2 separate regions of the Homo sapiens genome follow, and region 1 is linked to region 2. The links come from fine-mapping of genetic effects on gene expression. A gene starts in region 2. The other region holds a variant in brackets. All regions are shown on one strand. Distances are between the middles of the regions.

Evidence for each region.
Region 1: its variant is fine-mapped to the expression of TSPAN17 in nasal epithelium (TOPMed, PIP above 0.99).

The regions. Positions count from the first base shown.
Region 1 is chr5:176,676,668-176,681,973 of GRCh38, forward strand. No RefSeq gene overlaps it. Among named protein-coding and RNA genes, the nearest start is that of TSPAN17, 32 kb to the left of the region's middle. RefSeq lists enhancers at 3,206-4,166, 4,167-5,126. The variant C/T (reference allele first, on the strand shown) is at 2,948.
Region 2 is chr5:176,644,363-176,649,725 of GRCh38, forward strand. TSPAN17 (tetraspanin 17) reads left to right here and starts at 3,122. Exons shown (of 9, transcript NM_130465.5): 1 at 3,122-3,340. The coding sequence starts at 3,254. It overlaps EIF4E1B (eukaryotic translation initiation factor 4E family member 1B), which reads left to right. Exons shown (of 9, transcript NM_001099408.2): 6 at 14-77; 7 at 768-881; 8 at 1,015-1,154; 9 at 1,504-2,282. The coding sequence ends at 1,618. RefSeq lists enhancers at 1-363, 945-1,455, 1,726-2,020, 4,382-5,251 and a silencer at 2,694-3,353.

The DNA of each region.
Region 1 (5,306 bases), 32 kb after region 2:
TTGAGCTGGGAGCCCTTCGAGGGACTCCTGCTTGCATTAAACCTATACCAGTGCTTTCTGAGTTTCACTCTCCCCCCTGGGGTGTGATGATGATACCGCCCATCCCTGAGGGGCCTGTGACAAACGCTACCCCTTTATACATCCTGGCTCTGATATGAACAGCCTTTTTCTTGGGTCCCTGAACACACTTTGTCACTGCTGGGGCTTAACAAAGCCTTCCTGAACGCCCAGGAGAGCAGCAGGGACCTAACAGAGGACTCCAGAGGCTCAGACCCAGCCCCGCACGGCTCCTCCACCCCAAATTCAGCCCCGGGGTCTTGTTCACCAACTGCTGGGTCAGAGGTCCTGATTTCCATGTCTACTTGCTGCTGGGTGACAGGGCAGCTTTCCCTGGCCCCTGCCAGGGGGTCCCCAACCAGGCATCTCACTGATTTCATGGACCTGCCCCAGAGAGGGGCACCCAGTTCTGTAGTACCCATCCCCCCAGGGCTGCCCCCACTTCCAGTTTTCCAGGGGGTAGCACTGTGATGTCACCCCTAGTGAGGGCCGTTTTGTTCCTGTCACACTCCCCACTACCACAACAACTAGGCCCTATCCTTGAGGGATGCAGGCTGCACAGAGAAGCAGAGAAACAAGAGAAGGGAAACCTTAGCTGTGGAGCTTCCAAAGTCCAGGTCCTACCACATGCAGTACATTTGGAACGCTCTCTGCACAGCATGTGTCTCCCCCTCAGCATGGACAGATGAGGTTAAACATTGTCTAGCTGTGGAGGACAGAAGAATATAAGGAACTAAGGGAGAGGGCTCTCCTGGGCTGGGTGGGGGTACGCCTGGGGAAGGATAAGCCCCCAGGGGCAGCTGCAGCTCTGATCTCGGGATTGGTGGGGCTGAACCTCATTTCCTGGGAGGGGCAAGGTCCCCAGGTGCCCTGTGCCCTGAGAAGGCCAGGAGACTCTAGACAGGGAGTGAGCGGTGGTGGCTCAACAGAGGGCCTGTGACAGCCCAGCGAGCTCCCCAGCCCCAGTGCCCTGTAGGGAGCGGCCAAGTTCTCAAGGAGGGCCTGGAAGGGAGTCCCAGTTGTGACAAGAGGAGGCCACAGCCAAAACTTGCTTGGCCCTTACAAGCAGAGACCAGATGGGGACGCAGACAGCTCATCGGCTGCCAACTCGGAACAGAGATGACAGCCAAGAACCACATGTCCCAGTGTATGTCTTGGGGGTGCCAGCAGGGATGACATCGACCGATGACCCATCTGCCACCTCCCCTGATGTTTATGATGTCACCCATATTTGCTGGGATCTGTGGGGTCCAAGAGATGGGGGAGGGGGCCCTGAATCTTCTGAGTTGAAGCTGACAGAGCTGAACTGAACTCAAGACTTTTCTGCTACTCAGTAGAAAACGGAGGTTGGAAAGGAAGCATGCATATAGTAGGAAAGTAAGGTGGTGGTTTTGGCACACCTGCGTGAGTGGCCTGAACATTCACACCCACAATCCAGGGCTGAATGAGGGACAGTGAATGCAGCCTTTGGTGGGGTGGCTCTTCCTCCCCGTCCCTGGTCATGTGATGGGCACTGGTGTGTACCTGAGCATTTCCTCCTCGCTCTCCCTCCTGGGGGTAGGTGTCAGGGGAACAGAGAGGGCTGGGTGAGTGGTGAACACAGCCATCTATCTTCCTGCTCCCCAAGTCCCCCTTTGGTGAGGATGTTGCCAGGAGCAGGCAAGAGCTGGGAGGGCAGGTAGTGATGACTAGGAAGGAAAGAGGCAGTCCCGGGTGCCTGGGTGACCTGGTGGCCAGAGGAGAGGGAGAGGCCTGGAGGAGGCTGGGACAGAGGAAGGCTCAGAGGAGGCACTGGGCGGTGGTCAGCAGACTTAAGAGCCAGAATCCACTTCCGGTTCCTGGGCATATTCCCTAAGCAATCGGAGCCTCCGGTCCTCACCCCAAACAAGGTGGGCTCCACATGTCTGCCTGGCCCACATCTTTCTCCTTCCTGGTTCTCACTTGGGAAACCTTCATCTCCCAGTAGTTTAGGCAGTGCTGACCCTGGCCTCTGGCTTCAGGCCTGGCCAATGGGGCTATATTCTTGCACCCTTGTTGGAACTGTTGGCCGAGGGAAGCTGGCTGTCTGCCAAGATGGCTGAGCTGAGCAGTGAGCGCCCGTGGGCCCCTCCTTGCTGATCTCCCCAAGCTGGGCCCAGGCCCCTGCCAGGCCCTTTGCACCTGCTGCTCACTTCCCTGGGGTGCCTTCTCCTCTGACCTTCACCTTCAGCTCCTCTCATCTGAGGCTCAGCCCAGTGGCCCTACTCAGAGAGGCCAACTTGGCTCCCTTTAAAGCAGTCCCCAGTCCTGTCCCAGGGCCTTCCCTATGTCTGCGTTTCTTCCCAGCACTCACCACCATCCGAGATGAGCTCCTGAGCTACTTTAACTGACCATCTCCTCCTCTGATATCAGCCGCCAAGAGCAGGGACCTTGTTGCGCTCCTTCCCAAGCCAGGGCCCAGCACAGAGCAGAGGCTCAGCAGTCCCTGCCTGGACACCGAATGCTACTGAGAACTCTGTGCCTGGTGTGGGGCAGAGTCTCCAAGGTCACAAACCCATCTTGGGGGTGCAAAATCCCTGCTAAGGTTTTCTAAAACAAAACTTAATTTCTGTCTTGAGTCCCCATTAGAGTAAATTCAGGATAAATTTGGCCCATTTTGGGGTGTTCTTGGTCCATTTGTGGTTGCACTCAGGTGGAGGAGGGACCCAGGAAGGGTCAAGGCCTCGAGTGGGGCCAAACTCCCCAGACATCTGTGTGACCTCAACGCTGCACCCACAACCCAGGGGTCTCTGCCTTCCACACTGGCTCCACATAGTCCTCCGTCCTGCCTGGTACAGGATCCATCCCTGCCGCATGCCCCTCTTAGACCACCAGGGTCCCCCGTCACGTCCCAGGACCAATCTGGTGACCC[C/T]TCTGCTTCAAGACATACATTCTGCCTCAGTGGGGGCACATGGGGACTCTAAGTTACCCCCATCCATTCTGTCCAGGCCCCTCCCACAGGAGTTAGGAGGGGCTGTCTTGGTGGCTGGTGACCTGATGAGTGGGTGTCTCCGTGGGCCCCACTGCTCCCCTCCGAACATCCCCCTGCCTGGGATCCCCAGACTCCTTACAGGGCCAGGCTAGCTCCTCTCCCTGTCACCCTGGGGCTCTGCCAGCTACCAGGCAGGAGGCTGTCAACACCGGGAGGAGGACATATCCGAGGCATCTCGGACGCCAAGCGTGAGTGAGCAAGGCTCGTCCTGCTAAGGGTCTGGGGACGTGACTGGGTGTGCAGAGGAAGAGAGAGGCCAGGCTCAGGCTTCATCTTGTTTAATCCGTGGAGGACCTAGGGGATCCCTGTTTAGACCCCTGCAGGCTGCAGTGCCGCTCTGCTCCGGCCTTAGCGCCTCCCCGCAGCTCAGAGGATGGGACTGGGGTCCAGCTCCCTGCCCGCCCCGCACCCCGTACCCCGCAGCCTGTCCGTCCATCCGCCCCGCTTCACTTCGCTGTCCCCTGTCGGGGTTCGAGTCGCAGCCTCCAGCCTCAACCCGCACCTCCCGCCCTGCAGCTCAACTCTCGCCTCCGCTGCAATTTATTACTGGAGGCCGCAGAACCAGCGGCGTGGAGTGCGCCTCCCGGGAGCCGCCGCTGTCGGAGAAAGGCACCCACCCGCCTGGGCCGGCTCCCGGGCGCGGGGCGGTGTCTCAGGGAGGCGTCTCAGCCGAGCTGCAGGGCGAGGGGAGCGAGCCGGGTCCCGGGGGAAGGCATCCGGTCAGGGCCTCGCCCACCCGGATGGCTCCTGCGCCACGGGGCCTGAGCTCCGCCTTTGGGATCCGCGAGGATTGGAGACTGGGGACCCGGCAGCAGAGGGTCCAGGCAGAAAAGCTCCGTGTGGCCCCCAGGGAGGGTGGATTTAAAGAAAACCAGTCACATTAAAAAGCCAGGGTTCATGGAAATACTTGGACTGCTGGCTTCTCCTGAAAAACGGGCAGTCGACACCGGGTGGCCTTCCACAAGGCAAACCTGGGGGGCAGCCCCGTTTAGAAGGCCCGGCTGCCCTCTTCAGTCACCCAGCGCCTCGCCAGACCCCAGGGGACATTGGGGCTTGAGACCCCTGCTCTGCGTGGGGCACAGCAGAGGCCAAGGGAGACTGTGGCCCAGCTGTTCCACGGGCTTCTGGAGGCCAAGGACTCTCTCTTTTTGTTTTTATCTTTGTATATTACTCTGGTACATAAAGGCTGGCATATAAAAGTGTTGAATAAATAAATTTTCAATGAACAGCTGAATGAATGATGATGGTGATGAATGAATGAATGGATGGTGATGACTACCCAGAATTATAATCAAGTGGATGAGACTCAACCACTTGAAAAGGTGAGTCCACATTGCAGGCCAAGGAAGCAGAGGTGCAGAAGCTGGGGGCCCCTGAAGGAGTCCAGGGCACTTGGGGTGGAGTGGGGACCAGGGCAGCGTGGCTGCCCAGGGGTGGCAGGAAGGCCAGGCTGAGGGGCTGGAATTTGAGCTTCCTGGCTGCTTTACTATCCAGTCACCTGAGCTTTAAACACCCCAAGTCTGGGGCCACCCTCCAGGCCCAGGAAATCAGACTCTTCACCGGTGGGTGGGGCAATCTGTGCTTTAAAAATGTTGCCGGTTGGGCGCGGTGGCTCACGCCTGTAATCCCAGCACTTTGGGAGGCGGAGGCGGGCGGATCACGAGGTCAGGAGATGGAGACCAGCCTGGCCAACATGGTGAAACCCAGTCTCTACTAAAAATACAAAAATTAGCCGGACAGGGTGGCGCGCGCCTGTAATCCCAGCTGCTAGGGAGGCTGAGGCAGGAGAATCGCTTGAACCCGGGAGGCGGAGCTTGCAGTGAGCCGAGGTCGTGCCACTGCACTCCAGCCTGGCGACAGAGACAAACTCCGTCTCAAAAAAAACCAAAAAAGTTCTCCCAGGAGATTTTGGAGCCCCCAAAAGCTGCATGGCGGGGAAGTGATTATCTGCCACGGGTCTGCTGCTGCATCCATCCCTCTTCCTGTCCCGCCTCCCAGGGCCGGGTGTCTTTCTAAAGCCACGGGTCACCTTTCTGAGTGGTGGTCAGGCCCTGGGGGTCCATCTTAGCCACTCACCGTATTTTAAGTAAGTTTTAGAGGGAAGGAAAAGTATGAAATGACTGTGTTTGTTTTGCCCAAGCAAATCCATTTATAAAGTGCAGCACTTGTTTAAGAAAAAAACAACAGCTATTGACAAAATATAAGAAAATAAATTAAAGCCGCAGCTTCTTAAAAGGAC
Region 2 (5,363 bases):
GGGCTCTGTCCAGGCTATACAGTCACATCCAGCTGGCCAGCAAGCTCTCCTCTGGCTGTGACTACGCCCTCTTCAAGGTAAGCTCTGCTCTCCTCTTTCCCTCCCGCAAAGGGACAAGGGGTTGATCCCTCCCGGACTCCACTGCGTTAATCCCTCAGAGGGGTGGGGGTGGGGAGCTACGGGCCACCTCTCAGCAGAGTTGTGGTTTCTGACTGGAGGAAATGCTCTACAGGAGCCCGGACAGAGTAGGTCAGGCCCAAGCCGCACCTTGGAGGACCTTAAGAGGCGGGAAGAGGGAGAGGGAGAGATTTCTGACCTGGCTCCTTAACTAGGGAAGGGCATCAGAATTGCTTGAGGACACTCATTGATGCCACACCCATCCCTGGAGGGCTGACATTGTGTTTAGAGATCTCCCCAGTGACTTCTGCCCTGCCTGGGAACCATGCAGCCAAGCCTGGGATGTCCCCCTTGCCTGCATTGGGGTCTGCCCCTGAGGCTTCCTTAATCCACCCCGATTTGAATGCTTGTCTTAAGGAACTCAGTAAAAGAGACATGCACATATACAAGGCTATACAAGGTGACCAGTGCTGTCTGTCGGGGGGAGCTGAGTGGCTGGGGGTGGAACCTGCTTGCACTGAGGGAAGGGAGGATAAGAGAATCTGGCCTACTTAGGGCCTCAGCAGAGAGCGGATAAGGCCGGGATGGTGGGTGGGTCCCCATTTCCCTTTGAACACAGGGAGGCAGTTGACTTGCCATCTGCCTTGCAGGATGGCATCCAGCCCATGTGGGAGGACAGCAGGAATAAACGGGGTGGCCGCTGGCTGGTCAGCCTGGCCAAGCAGCAGCGCCACATTGAGCTGGACCGGCTGTGGCTGGAGACGGTGAGTTGGAGGAGGAGGGTCCTCAGGGGAAGAGACGGGCTGTGTGGGTCTCATGGTGGCAGTGGTCTCAAGGATGGCAGGCCAGTCCCTATGTCCCAGCCGGTGATCTCACAACCCCCTACTTCGGGTCCAGCTGCTGTGTCTGATCGGGGAGAGCTTTGAGGAACACAGCAGAGAGGTATGTGGGGCCGTCGTCAACATCCGCACCAAGGGGGACAAGATCGCTGTGTGGACGAGGGAGGCGGAAAACCAGGCGGGCGTGCTGCACGTTGGGTGAGGAGGGTCTCTGGCACAGGGTGGGGACTTGGGTCTCTGCTAGAGGGAAGGTGGGTGGAGGGGGCTTGGCCTGCATGGGAGACCTCTGAAAGTCTCCATAGCCTCCCTCCCTTCTGCCTTGCCCACCTGTATGGAAGGTCTGGCGTTCAGATTTCTAACTTTCTCTTACGGCAGTGCAGCTCTCCTTTTGCATTAAGGGGGTCATATTTTGGGTTTCCACATGGGTAAGACACAACAGGTGTGGCTGTGGCCAGAATGAGGGTAGGAGTCTGGTGGCCTAAGTTATCTCTAGGACCCTCTGATGACTACCTGTGTCTCTTTTCCTCTGTGTCCCCCGCACCTGCAGGCGTGTATACAAAGAGCGCCTGGGCCTCTCCCCAAAGACCATCATTGGGTACCAGGCCCATGCAGACACAGCCACCAAGAGCAACTCCCTAGCCAAGAACAAGTTTGTGGTGTGAGGGGGGCCTTGGCACCCCTCCTATGTAATGGGACAGCCGCCACTGAGCCTCATTACTTTGGGGGATGGGGCGGGACTGGGGATCAGACAGCCTAGTTCTTACCTGTCCTCAAGTGAACAGGAATGCAAACACTCTTTAACATGAGTTGGGGCCTGAGCCTTAGGGGCTAGATGGGGGTAGTGGTGGCAGTCTGAGGACCTAGCTTGTCCTGGGGCCACAGGACAGCAGCAGGGTGGAAAAAACTCCTGAGGGTGGGGTGAGTCATGGCGGGGAAGGAGGGCTCTATGGTAGGCGGAGAAACCCATAGTCCAGCGTTTACTGTTTCCACCCAGGAAGGAGGTGAGGTGGCCTGAGAGACAGACTCTTCCATGGGTGGTGGGCTCAAGGGCACAGACATTCTGGAGGGTGAACGCCATCATTTGTACAGAGGGATACGTGGGTTGCTGAGGACTGAGAGAGCCTTGCAAGGCCGCTCCCCTTCTCCCCAGCTGTGACCAGGGCTGTCTGGGCCTTGCCTGCCTCAGGGCCAGACTGAAGTGGAGGTGGAGGGATGCTGGGCTAGGCCTCACCAAGGTTCTGGTAGAAGTGGTGGAAGTGGATAAACTTGATAATAAAAGCTTAAGCATCTTTCTGTTCCTGTTTTAAATAAATACTTCTGAACAAAGTTGGAATTATTTTTAAGAGGGCTTCAAACTGGAGTAAGATTCAGGTTCCCCCAAACTTTGATCTGCCTCTGTCCTGTCTTACAGGGGCTCATGTGAGATCACTGGGTACCAAGGAGCCTGACCGGGACCCTGGCCAGTATGGAGGACAGGGGGTGTGGCTGGGGAAACTCAGCCACCAAGGGGGCTTGAGCCAGGTTCCGGGGGGCATATGCCCCTGGCAGGGCGCAGCCGGCGTGGCACCAAGGCCCAGGCCCTCGTTTGGCCTGAGTTTGAGTCAGGATAAGTAGAGCTGGATTTCCGCTGGGTGAAGGTGAGCCTGATGCGACTCCACAATGACAAAACGTCCTGCACGTGTTAAAAACTCAATCCGGACCAGCTTCCCCATTCGCCTGCCAGAGCAGCAGTTAACCTTCCCCTGGGATGGGCTCCAACAGCAGGCTGGGGATTGGGATGGCGCTGGTACCCAGCAGGGGAAGCAAGGCTTCTACACCCCGGCGGCCTCCGGCGCCATCAGCCGGCGTCCCGGGCGGGTCTGCAGGACGCTGGGAAACGCGGCGGCGGCCTGCGCGGGGGCGGGGCCTGGCCGAAGGCGGGGCTGCGAGGAGGTCCGAATCAGGCTGTGGGGGCGGAGCTCGGGAAGCGGAGCCAGGTCCAGAGGCGGGGCTCAGGCGGGACTGAGTTGATCTATGGGGGCGGAGCCAGGTCAGGAGGCGGGACTCCAAAGGGACTGAGGGCTGTGGGGGCGGGGCCCGGTCCAGAGGCGGGGACAGCAGGGCTCCGGGCAAGGAGGTCTGGATGCTGAGGGCGGTCCCTGAGGGGCGGGCGGGGCCCGACCGGCGCTCTGTGTGGCCGAGGCCATGAAGCCGCAGCCGCCCGGCTAGGCCCCGGGCGGCTCTAGCCCAGGGCGGCCCGCGGGGCGCTGGGCCTGGCTCCCGGCTCCGGTTTCCGGGCCGGCGGGTGGCCGCTCACCATGCCCGGCAAGCACCAGCATTTCCAGGAACCTGAGGTCGGCTGCTGCGGGAAATACTTCCTGTTTGGCTTCAACATTGTCTTCTGGGTGAGCGCGGGGTCTGCGCCTTGCCCTGTGCTGGGGGGTGGTGGGAGAGGGAGATTCAGTCTTTTGCTGGGGGAGACCACTCCCTGCCCCAAGAGTTTGGAGCTCGGGACCATCCCCCCACTTCTGCCACACCCACGCCCACTTCCAGGACCACCCGAGGTAGCTACAGAGGCCCGGATTGCTGGGGGCGGGTCCTAGCGACAGCGTGGGGTCGGGGTTGGGGTAGGGAGTCTCCCTAAATAATCCCGAGGCCTGGTGGAGAAAGGGAAGGTGTTTCCTTGAAGACCCCAGGGGCGTGCTAGGTGCAGGTTGCCCCCTCTCGCCCAGCCCTCCTTCCTACCCTGGGATGTGGGATGCGTGCCAAGCCCCACCCCTGGTTTAGCCGGTAAGGAGATTCTGGCGTGAAGGGAGCCGCCAGGCCCCTTCCCCGGCCTCCTTTCCCTTCCAGTAGTACCTGGGTCAGGTGCCTCACCTTAGGCTCCTGCAGAGTGGGGTGGGTCACAGTCCTCTGCCCACCCCAGTCCCGCACAAGGAGGCTGACCTGCCAGGAGGGGCAGGGAGGGACAATGGCGAGTCCTTGGCGGCTGGGAGAGGATCTCCCCGGTTGAGAGCCTGGGAGCTGGCCTTGGGGAACAGAATTCAACATTCCACAGCTGACAAGCTGAGGCTCCTGGGCGGGTCTGCCCCTACCGGGGAAGGGAGCTACTAGTGCCCCTCCCAGGGTGGCATCTGTCCCCCTGGGCCCTGCCAGGTCATTTTTCCCATCTCTCCAAAGCCGTGGCCCTCTGCAGTCTCTGCTCCTGAGGCCTTGGGTCAAGATGCCAGGCCTTTTCCCTTGTGTTCAGCAAGACTCAGTGGCACTGCCCCCCACCCACGTGTCACCGAGCTCACTGGTGTGGTGGGTGTCCTTGCACTGCAGCGCTAGGCTCTTGAGGGTGTGGGCAGTGTGTGGGAGCACTGGCAAAGAAGTCAGAAGGCCTGGCTGTAGCAGGCCTGGCTGGGACACCTTGGGCAAGTCATCTCTCCTCTCCGGGCCTCAGCTTGCCTGCCTGGGAGACGACGATAAAGAATCTGCCTGTGAGGGCTGTTAGGCAGATACAATGAGTTCAATTTGTTGTATTCTCACAACTGCCTTATTATCTGCATTTTACAGATGGGGAAACTGAAGGAATAGACACAGAGAAATTAAGTCACTTACCTAGGGTCACACAGCCAGAAAGTACAGAGCCAAGGTGACGGCTTAGTGGGCAGAGGGTGGAGGTGAGGCAGAGCTGTGAGCAGAAGTAACCTCAAATACCGAGGGGGAGCAGGCGTGAGAGACCCGGGTTTGTTGCTGGGGCGGAGCGTGGGGTGTTATGTTAAGGTGGCATGGAGAAGCGAGGGCTTCCAGTGATGGGTCTGATCTGGCTTCTGTTCTGGAGACCGCTTGCCTGGCTGCTGTGTGGAGGGTGGATGAGGGGCAGGGCCTGGAGGTTTGGAATGGGGGCAGGGCTGGGGCAAAGCTGGGATGGTGAGGTGGGAAAGGTGAGGGAGGTTGCTGGGAAAGTCAAGAGGCTGAATTGACTGGGCTGGGTCACTTGGGGGCTGGAGGGAGGATTTCAGATTTGGGTTAAGGTGGCCTAAGGGAGGCTGCTTGTGGAACAGGCACAGAGGTTTTCATGTTTAATGTCAGGCAGACCCTGGTGTTGTTCTGTTTGGAAACTGCTTGTGGTTTCCTTTTTTCTTTTTTCTTTTTTTTTTTTGAGACAGAGTTTTGCTCTTGTTGCCCAGGCTGGAGTGCAATGGCACGATCTCGGTTCACTGCAACCTCCGTCTCCCAGGTTCAAGCGATTCTCCTGCCTCAGCCTCCCAAGTAGCTGGGACTATAGGTGTGTGCCACCACGCCTGGCTAATTTTGTATTTTTACTAGAGATGGGGTTTCTTCATGTTGGTCAGGCTGGTCTCGAACTCCTGACCTCAGGTGATCCACCTGCCTTGGCCTCCCAAAGTGCTGGGATTACAGGCGTGAGCCACCACGCCCGGC